Linked DNA regions of Homo sapiens: region 2 is linked to region 1. Evidence: fine-mapped expression QTL. Tissue or cell type: whole blood. Region 1 holds a variant in brackets; the other region holds the start of a gene. All regions are shown on one strand. Distances are between the middles of the regions.

Region 1 (5,147 bases):
CAGTTTGGGTGCTTGGAATATGCTGAATAAGCTTCCCAATTCATGGAGGGGTAGGAGAAATTGAAATTCAACTTAGGAAGCCAAAATAGATTTTTCTGCCTATTATCAAAAATTTGCAGAAGCTGCACATCTGCTGGTGTGAGACACAAATGTGAAAGTATGCAGGCACACACAAACACATAACACTCGTTAAACTTAAATCACTTAACTTGTTATTAAGTGTAAACTCACTGAGTTAGAATAAACCTCAGAGATTTTTTTTTTTTCACTAATACATGGGAACGCCAAGATAAACGGAAGAAAAGAAACATAACAAAGGTCATACAGCTAGACGGAGCAGTGCTGAAGCCAGCATCAGATGTTTTATAAGGTATTAAACGATCTGGTCACATCCTCCCTTTCTCAACTTCCTGAATACTATTCACTCCTGTAGGTGTATCCCACAGTTGAACGAGTTGAATGCTCTGTGTACTAAACATACTCTTTGCTTTCTCCCTGCCATGACATTGGTCAAGCTGTTTCATCTACTTGGAATCCCTCCTTCCAATCTCTAGTGGTTAAAATCCATTCTCCAAGGGCCTATTCAGATGATACCTCTTTCAAAATGCCCTCCCTGTTTGCTCTCTCTTTATTTACTATGTGTTATAAACTGAATGTTTGTGTCCCCCTTAAATTCATATGTTGAAACCCTATCTCCATCCAGCGTGCCCATATTTGTAGTAAGGAAGTAATTAAGGTTATATGAGGTCATAAGGGTGAGGCCCTGATCCAACAGGATTAGTATCCTGAGATAGAGAGCTTGTTCTTGCTCTTGCTCTCTCTCTCCCTCTCTCCCCACTGCCCCACGTTCTGAAGAAAGGCCACGTGACATAGTGATAAGGCAGCCATCTGCAACCCAGAAAGAAAGCCGTTCCCAGAAAGTGAATTGGCTGGAACTTTGATCTTGAGAAAATAAATTTCTGTTGTTAAAATATCCACTCTGTGGTATTTCGATATGGCAGCCTAAGCAGACTATGACACTATCTTAAGTAGAACTTTGTTGTTGTTGTTTTGAGATGGAGTCTTGCTCTGTTACCCAGGCTAGAGTGCAGTGGGGCAATCTCGGCTCACTGCAACCTCTGCCTCCTTGGTTCAACAATTCTCCTGCCTCAGCCTCCTGAGTAGCTGGGATTACAGGCGCCCACCACCATCCCCAGCTAAATTTTGTATTTTTAGTAAAGACAGGGTTTCACCATGTTGGCCAGGCTGCTCTCAAACTCCTGACCTCGAGCAATCCACCCACCTCGGCCTCCCAAAGTGTTGGGATTACAGGCGTGAGCCACTATGCCTGGCCTAGAACTTTGTTTATACTTCTTTAACAATTATTTCATTCTATTTTGTATTACATTTAGGACAGTTTTTTGCTCTAGAATGTGCTGAAATGCTATGCTACAACCTTCCTTAGGCTTGATACAAGATAAAATAGCAGCCATAATAACAATACAAAGTATTAGTATTTCTATGACAACAATGATGATCAAGGTAGAGTTTTTAAAAAATAAATAATACTCTACCGTTTTATAAGGAAATGTATTATATGAAGTAAGTTCCTGTGTTGTTCCTATTTTTGTATGCTCATTAAGAGATAATATTTTTAAAATGCCAACAATTAGGTTTTAAAAACTAAACATGAAATCATTAATTAAACCTAAATAATTTTTTAAAATTATACTTTAAGTTCTAGGGTACATGTGCACAATGTGCAGGTTTGTTACCCAGGTATACATGTGCCATGTTGGTTTGCTGCACCCATCAACTCGTCATTTACATCAGGTATTTCTCCTAATGCTATCCCTACCCCAATCCCCAACCCCCCGACAGGCCCCAGTGTGTGACGTTCCCTGCCCTGTGTCCAAGTGTTTTCACTGTTCAATCCTCACCTATGAGTGAGAACATGCGGTGTTTGGTTTTCTGCTCTTGCGATAGTTTGCTGAGAATGATGGTTTCCAGCTTCATCCATGTCCCTGCAAATGACATGAACGCATCCTTTTTTATGGCTGCACAGTATTCCATGGTGTTTATGTGCCACATTTTCTTAATCCAA[C/T]CTATCATTGATGGACATTTGGGTTGGTTTCAAGTCTTTGCTATTGTGTATAGTGCCACAATAAATTTACGTGTGCATGTGTCTTTATAGCAGCATGATTTATAATCCTTTGGGTATATACCCAGTAATGGGATCACTGGGTCAAATGGTATTTCTAGTTCTAGATCCCTAAGGAATCACCACACTGTCTTCCACAATGGTTGAACTCATTTACACTCCCACCAACAGTGTAAAAGCATTCCTATTTCTCCACATCCGCTCCAGCATCTGTTGTTTCCTGACTTTTTAATGACCGCCATTCTAACTGGCATGAGATGGTATCTCATTGTGGTTTTGATTTGCATTTCTCTGATGACCAATGATGATGAGCATTTTTTCATGTGTCTGTTGGCTGCATAAATGTCTTCTTTTGAGAAGTGTCTGTTCATATCCTTTGCCCACTTTTTGATGGGGTTGTTTTTTTCTCGTAAATTTCTTTAAGTTCTTTGTGGATTCTGGATATTAGTCCTTTGTCAGATGAGCAGATTGCAAAAATTTCCTCCCATTCCGTAGGTTGCCTGTTCACTCTGATGGTAGTTTCTTCTGCCGTGCAGAACCTCTTTAGTTTAATTAGATCCCATTTGTCTATTTTGGCTTTTGTTGCCATTGCTTTTGGTGTTTTAGTCATGAAGTCCTTGCCCATGCCAATGGCCTGAATGGTATTGCCTAGGTTTTCTTCTAGGGTTTTTATGAATTAAACCTAAATAATTTAAAAAAATCTGTGTACATATAGTCTGTCTCTTAATAGCCTTTGAGGGCAGAGACCATGTCTTGCACATCTTGGCATCAATTCAAATGCTAGGTTAAAGCATCTTAAATATAGGTACTGGAGGTACACACAATGCTTGTTAAATTCCAAAAGGTTAATTACATATTTCCCAGAGGCTTGCTTCTAAGATTATAATTTTAATTCTAATTTTATTAGCTGGAAATGTCACCCAAGAGTATAATAAAACCAGCTAACTCCACAGTCATTCAAGATGGCTCTCTGACTTCTTCCAGGTAATCTCCTGCTATCAGTACTGAAACATGCCTATGACCGAGGGTTAAGCTCATGCTTTCATCTCCCCAACACTTAAAACTCCCTCTGAAAGTGACCCCTCTTTATCTTTACGTCTCTCTTATCATGTAAAAATCTATCAGTGACAAAGAGGAACAACTGCAAAGCTGCAGAAATTAAAAACAGACCTTTTGACTTAGGTACAAAATGTTTGCACTTTGGACATAAAGGGAATTTGCTGAGTTACTGAATCAAGTATTTATAGCACCACATAATTGATTTTCTGCCATAATAATTTCTTCTGTAATTTAGCAGCTCCTCCACAAATCCCCATCAAATCTATGACTTCTCAAAAATGCTAACAATGCTGGCTAATACAAAGGAAACAGTGCCACCTAAGCAAAATTAAACTAGAATAATAATCTATTCATAAAGTTCTTTTTAGGGACACATAGTTATTAAAATCTTTGCTTTTGTTATTCACGAGTCATGAGTTTTGCATTTTCCATTCTTTTCTCAATTATGTTATTAGGCTGTATCTTATCAAAAGTATTCTAATTCCTATCTTCAGGCTACAAAGTCCTTGCCCTAAATGAAAATATTAGAGTCCACTAAAAACCAACATAATCAAGTATGCCCTGTGACTTCCAACCCCAAAAGTGGAGGATGCTGACATGCATCATCATCGGTTTTGCCATTTGCCAGCTGGAGGACCTGGGCTAAGCTTGGTGAGCATAGGGACTGTGTCTGTTTTATTTGTCAATGTATATCCAGTGACTGGTGAAGCAGACATTCAATTTATAGTTGAATTCATGTCCTGTCTTTCATTCAACAAATATTCGCTGTGCACGTACTATATGCCAGGCACTAGGTTAGGTGCTTTACATGAATAATTTCATCTTTAGTTATCACCATTTTAGAGTAGAAGAATAAAAGTTCAGACAGTTAAACATTTGTTTCAGATCTCAGGATGAGGCCAGGCTTGGTGGTTAGTGTCTGTAATCCCAGCACTTTGGGAGGCCAAGATGGGCGGATCACTTGAGGTCAGGAGTTCAAGACTGCCCTGGCCAATGTGGCAAAACTCCGTCTTCACTAAAAATACAAAAATTAGCTGGGTGTGGTGGTGCACACCGGTATTCCCAGCTACTCGGGAGGCTGAGGCAGGAGAATTGCTTGAACCTGGGATGTGGAGGTTGCAGTGAGATGAGATCGTGCCACTGCACTCCAGCCTGGACAATGAGTGAGACTCTGTCTCATAAAAAAAAAAAAAAAAAAAAAAAAAAAGATCTCAGGATGAGCCAAGATTCAAATCCAGATCTTTCTGTGGCCCCAGAGTTCAGGCCTTTTCCTTACTATACCACACAACAACAATTCACAATCAGAAGCTAAAAGCTGGAGGTTGTGAAGCTTGCATGTTATTAACTATATCTGGCTGAGTATGTGTTTTGTTTTGGCTGTCTAGGATTTTTGAAAAATGAAGCCAACATTTTAAACTGAAGAGGTTTTACATACAATCTAAATTTCGCGCTTCTTTTGAAAAGCCTAAAGATGTGGTAGCAATGTTCCTACATCCCTGTATGGCAACAACTGCTGAAGCTAAGCAGAGGCTGCCCCTTAGATGGGACATGTGCTCTTCATGTGGCCTGCTAACTCATTTGCGTTATTTGTTTGGCCCCTGTAGATTTGGTTTGTAACTTCTGCTACCTCTATGTGGATCTCTAAGTACCCTCATCAGTGCTTGTCTATTATACTAGCCTACTAAGTGGCCTCTGTTGCTCTAACCCCTCATCTTCCTATCTTCTACACTGCTCTAGTTTGTTTCTGAAACAATCACGTCACTGCCCTACTCAAGAGTATGGTATTACGTACTCCTTAGTGACCAGAGAATAATATTAGTCTAAACTCCTTAACATGACATTCTAGACATTCTGTGATTTGATTTCAAATTACTTTTCCTGTCATATTTTCCTTGTCTAATGACTGCATGGATTGCAGCTATCCTAGAAGGGGGTGTCTAGTAGCCTG
Region 2 (5,147 bases), 420 kb after region 1:
GACTAAGGCAAATAGTAACAGAATATAATCCGCGAGCTCCCCTTTCTGGTCTCACTTCGGCTGGATGTGCTTAGACTCTCCTATTTCCCACTCAAGCCAGTGCTTCGGGCAGGTGGGCTAGTGACTTTTTCCGAATAGACTAAGGCAAATAGTAACAGAATATAATCCACTAAACACACACACACACACACACACACACACACACACACACACAGACTCCATGTAGATGTCAATAAATGATTAAGAGTTTAGTGAGGAACAAGATATTTACATAGTTTCAAAGTACATGGCAAAAACAATTAAGTATTAACTTTACAGTGGAGAAGCCTCGCAGATATTACTTATATCAAGTAATCAAAGTAAAAATAACCAACAATGAAACAAAGTGAAATTGTGCACCACCTGACAGGATGCAGTGAGCATCACTTCTGTGATATCCTTCCCACGTGCATATTCGTATGTATCTAATCATGAAGGAACAGACAATCCCAAATTGAGGGGGCAGCCTACAAAGTGACTGACCTGTAATTGTTAAATATGTTAAGGTCATGAAAGTCAGGAGAAGATAAAGGAAATGTTCCAGATTGAGGGAGACAAAAGAGACATAACATGAATGCAACACATATTGCTAAACTGGATCCTTTTGCCAGTAAAGAGATTACTAGCACAATCAACAAAACTTGAACCAGTCTGAGAACTAGATGGAGTACTGTATCACTATCCATTTCCTGTTTTGGTTATTACACTGTGATCATGTAGGAGAACATTCTTGTTTGCAGAAAATGCACATTAAAGTATTCTGGGATGACAGGGCATCAGGTCAACAGCTTCCTCTCAAATTGTTGGGGGGCGGGTAGAATTTTTTGTACCATTCTTGCAACTTTTTTGCAAGTCTGTTATTGTTTCAACATTGTTGGCCGGGCGTGGTGGCTCAAGCCTGTAATCCCAGCACTTTGGGAGGCCGAGGCCGGTGGATCACGAGATCAGGAGTTCAAGACCAGCCTGGCCAGGATGGTGAAATCCCGTCTCTACTACAAATACAAAAATTAGCGGGCGTGTTGGCGGGCGCCTGTAAATCCCAGCTACTCCGGAGGCTGAGGCAGAGAATTGCTTCAACCCGGGAGACAGAGGTTGCAGTGAGCCAAGATCGCACCACTGCACTCCAGCGTGGGCAACAGAGCAAAACTCCGTCTCAAAAAAAAAAAAAAAAAAAATTGTTTAAAAGTGGGGAGGGGGGGAGGCGGAACAATGTCACTAAAAACTAAAGGTTAAAAAACTGATTTCCCACACTTAATCTTGATAGAAAAGAAACATCAGACTATGCCAAATTACTAGGAAATAAAATTTTGGATCCAGAAGTTTAAACATTTAAACTTTCTCTTTAACAATTGACCTCAATCAGGTCATGACTGGTGAAAGAGAAAAGAACATGAAAGGTTCCCACTAAAGGAGAGGAAGTTCTTAGGAGAGGAATAATGAAAGAGAGAGTGGACCAAGAGTGGGTAGAACAATGGTATTCTGAGCTACCAATGGCTGTAACCATCAGGAAAACACAATCTCAGCATCTCTGAAAAATGAAGGGGCTGTAGAGCTGATATCTCAAATTCCTTGCAAATGTGGGACTAGAATTGCCCTAAAATAGAAGTGGTTTCCCAGCTCAATTTGTTATTACATTATGCTTAGCTACATAGTAATACAAGAGAATACAAATACAGAAATAAACGTGCATGAACCCTGAATTCTCTTAAGTTGTGGAAGTCCGTCAATTAAAGTGTAAAATACAATGCATTTGCCCAATTGTTCCTTACGACGAAAATTCTGTGACAAATAAAAAGAACAATGAAAACACATTAAAGTGAAACAAGATCACCTTCAGCGGTCAGCTGGCTGTCCTTAGTTAAAAGACAAGTCATGTCACTGTGAAGTGACCGTCACATTTGTCCTGAAAGAATAGGGAGCATTTCCTAGAAAGGGGTAAAAGTGCAAAGAATCCTGTCCCCTTCCCTGGTACCACGCGTTCCTTGGGGAGGTCACTAGGCCCCCAACAGCACAGGGGTGAGTTAGCACTGGACTCTCAGCACTTCCTTTCGGAGAGGACAACCCCCTGCGTCACTGGTTACTCACTCAGGATGCAGGGCAGAAGTTTATCCCCGAGGAACTTAGCACAGTTGGCTCCCGCCCTCCCAGCCTTGCGGTCCTGGGCCCAATCTCAGGGCTCTCTCTGCCCCGGGTACCCTGCAGCCTCCAGCGGGAGGGTCGCGAGACCCCAACTCGCCTCCGGCCCGCCCAGCGGGTGCGCCCAGGGGCTGGGCAGACGCGGCGTCTTCCCTCCCCCTACCGTCGTGCCGGCCCCCCCACGCCCACCGCCAGGCTCAGCCCAGCCGAGAAGGCCGGACGCCGACCGCCCGCTCCTCCGAGACTCGGCCTGGCCCTCCCCGACGCCCGTCCCCGACGCCCGGCCCCGCGGAGCCCACTGGACAGCGGCCGGGGGGCGGGGAGGCCCGGGGGCGGTGCCGCCCCACACCCTTACCTGGCTTCTCGTGGTCATAGCCTACCACGATGAAGTAGTCAGCCAGCCGGGCCATGGCCGCCGCCGCCGCGCTCGGGAAGCGGGTCCCCGTCGCCGCCCTCGCCGCCGCCGCCCACCCGGCCCGGGAGGGCTCAGCATTTTCCCTGCAGCGGCAGTAGCGGCAGCGGCAGCGCTTCAGCCATGTTTGACAACCGAGGCGCGCTCTGCGCTTGCGCGGCGCCTAGTGCCCGCTCCTCCCCCGCCCCCACCCGCGCTGGCTCGGCTGCCCCAAGCCCGGGCGGCGAGCCCACCTCCACCCTCCGCGGGCCTCGCGGACTGCTGCGCTGGGGGAGTGGGCGGTCGGGCGTGTTCCCGCCACGCGCCGCCACCGCGGCCCCTGGAGGTGGTTCACTTTGAGGCCTGGATGCTGCTTCACGGCCCCCTCTGCCTCCCTATTTTTCCTAAAGCAGGGGGTCCTTCCTTCCGCCTTCTCTATTCTGTTTGGATTTGGAAGAAGGGATGTGGAGAGTTGAGGGGTCACTTGGAAAGCTGGCTGCTTCCTCTGCTCCCCACCACCACCAAAGATGAAATTCTCCCGCCCTCGGTTGGAAGCAAGGAATTTGCATCGACAGGGCTTTTGCTGCACGTTTCCTGTTTATGTTGTGTAGATGGGAATTTTAGAAACATGCCACCGAGCAGACGGGGGAGGGAGAGGCTTTTACGCAATCCTCCAAGGAGCCTCGGGTTTCAATGCCGGGTGGGCCGGGGGCGGTCGGCCTGGGCTTCCCCCGGAGCGCCCGGGAGAGCCAGATTCCACCGAGGAACGCGGCATCCCCGGGATCCTCCCGAACTGGGCTGGCCTCTCCCTGGGGAGCCCCGCACGCCTCGGCTTGCTTCCCTCGCAGCGGTCCCAGGGCTCTCGCAGCCCGAGCAGGTGGACTTCCAACTTCCCTGCTCAAACATGCACAAAAATGAATAGATGGTCCCGTCCTTCCGTCTCGGGATTATCAAAGTCGCTTGCTTTTTTGTTGAACCTCCTATTGACCATTTCGAATTTGGCTGGTGTGACATTCAGGTGAACTCACTTTGTCATTTGTTAATATCTCACGAAGTTTTAGTAGAATTTGTACAAGTGGTAGACCAAAGTTTTGGAAATCTCCGTGGTTTAGAAGTTGTCTTTGTGGTTGCTTATCACTGCTCACTATTAATTGAGGGTTTGATCCTTCATATTTACACATAAGACAAGGCCTCTTAGCAAAGCGTCTAGTATATAGTAGGTGCCTACAAAATATTTTAAATGAGTAAATGTGCGATTTTCCCCAACGACCAGCAGGAAGCCGCAATGGCTCCAACTCTGAACTGAGAGAGTTGACATCTCAGCTCCTGAAGATTTACTCTGCTGTAATTTACTATTTCCCCTTTCTCTGCCACACTTGTTTCATCTACAAATTGGGAGGGTTGGGCTGCACTAGAACTGAAACTGAAGGAATACTTTAACTCCAGGACCTCTATGTCAGTTGCTAATGGTAAAACTGAATCAGCTGAATTTGCAAACGTGGAGGGAAGATAGTTTGATCCTGAAAATAATTAAACCAAAAAAAAAAAAACCTCAGTCATACCCCGTGCAGCAATCCTCTCTGTAACTTCCCTGAGAGCTCATCATCCAACTTGATCACTTTCAGTAAAAAGTAATCTTACTTCCTTGGGAGGCAGCGCATTCCACTGTTTAACAGCCCTATTGTTAGAAAGTTCTTCCTTATTATTTCAGAGTTGTCTTACTGTAACTTCCCCTGATTCTGCTCTCCGGAACTATCCAGAAAAAAAAAATCTATCTTCATATGATAGATTTTTAAGGCAGCTATCATATTCCTTCCCAACTTTTCTAAAAATAGGGCAAAATTCACATATTGTAAAATTAGCCACTTGAAAATGTAGAATTCAGTGGCAATTAAGTACATTCCCAATGCTGTACAACTACCATGTCTATCTAGTTACAAAACATTTTCATCACCCAAAAGAAAACCTCACAACCATTAAGCAGTCATTCTCATTCTCCCCTCCCACAGCCCCTGGCAATCACCATTTTGCTTTCTGTCTCTATGGATTTACCTATTATGAATATTTCATATTCATATCATACAATATGTGGGTTTTTTGTGTCTTGGTTTTTCTCACTTAGTATATTGTTCTCAGCTTGTTTACGGGCAGATACAGTACAAGGTTGTAGCATCACATTGAAGTATCAATACTTCATTATTTTTTATGACTCAATAATATTCCATTGTATATTGTGTTAGACTGTTCTCACGGTGCTAATAAAGACATACCCGAGACTAGGTAATTTATAAAGAGAAGAGGTTTAATTGACTCACAGTTCCACATGGCGGAAGGCAAGGAGAGCAAAGCGGCAGACAAGAGAGCTTATGCAGAACTCTCCTTTATACCATCAAATCTCATAAAACTTATTCACTATCACCACAACAGCAGGAGAAAGACCCGCCCCCATGATTCAATTACCTTCCACCGGATCCCTCCCATGACAGGTGGGAATTATGGGGTACAATTCAAGATGAAATTTGGGTGAGGACACAGCCAAACCATATCATATGTATATACCATATTTTGTTTATCTGGAACA

What was found. PIP is the estimated chance that this variant, and not a neighbour inherited with it, causes the effect.
Region 2: it holds the start of SBF2, and the variant in region 1 is fine-mapped to the expression of SBF2 in whole blood (INTERVAL, PIP 0.95).

What each region holds. Positions count from the first base shown.
Region 1 is chr11:9,875,706-9,880,852 of GRCh38, forward strand. The region is part of intron 17 of SBF2 (SET binding factor 2); the gene reads right to left. The region is part of intron 1 of LOC101928008 (a long non-coding RNA gene); the gene reads left to right. Among named protein-coding and RNA genes, the nearest start is that of LINC02709, 120 kb to the left of the region's middle. The variant C/T (reference allele first, on the strand shown) is at 2,084.
Region 2 is chr11:10,291,485-10,296,631 of GRCh38, forward strand. SBF2 (SET binding factor 2) reads right to left here and starts at 2,735. Exons shown (of 40, transcript NM_030962.4): 1 at 2,531-2,735. The coding sequence starts at 2,585. RefSeq lists silencers at 2,133-2,272, 2,313-2,392, 2,423-2,702, 2,823-2,872.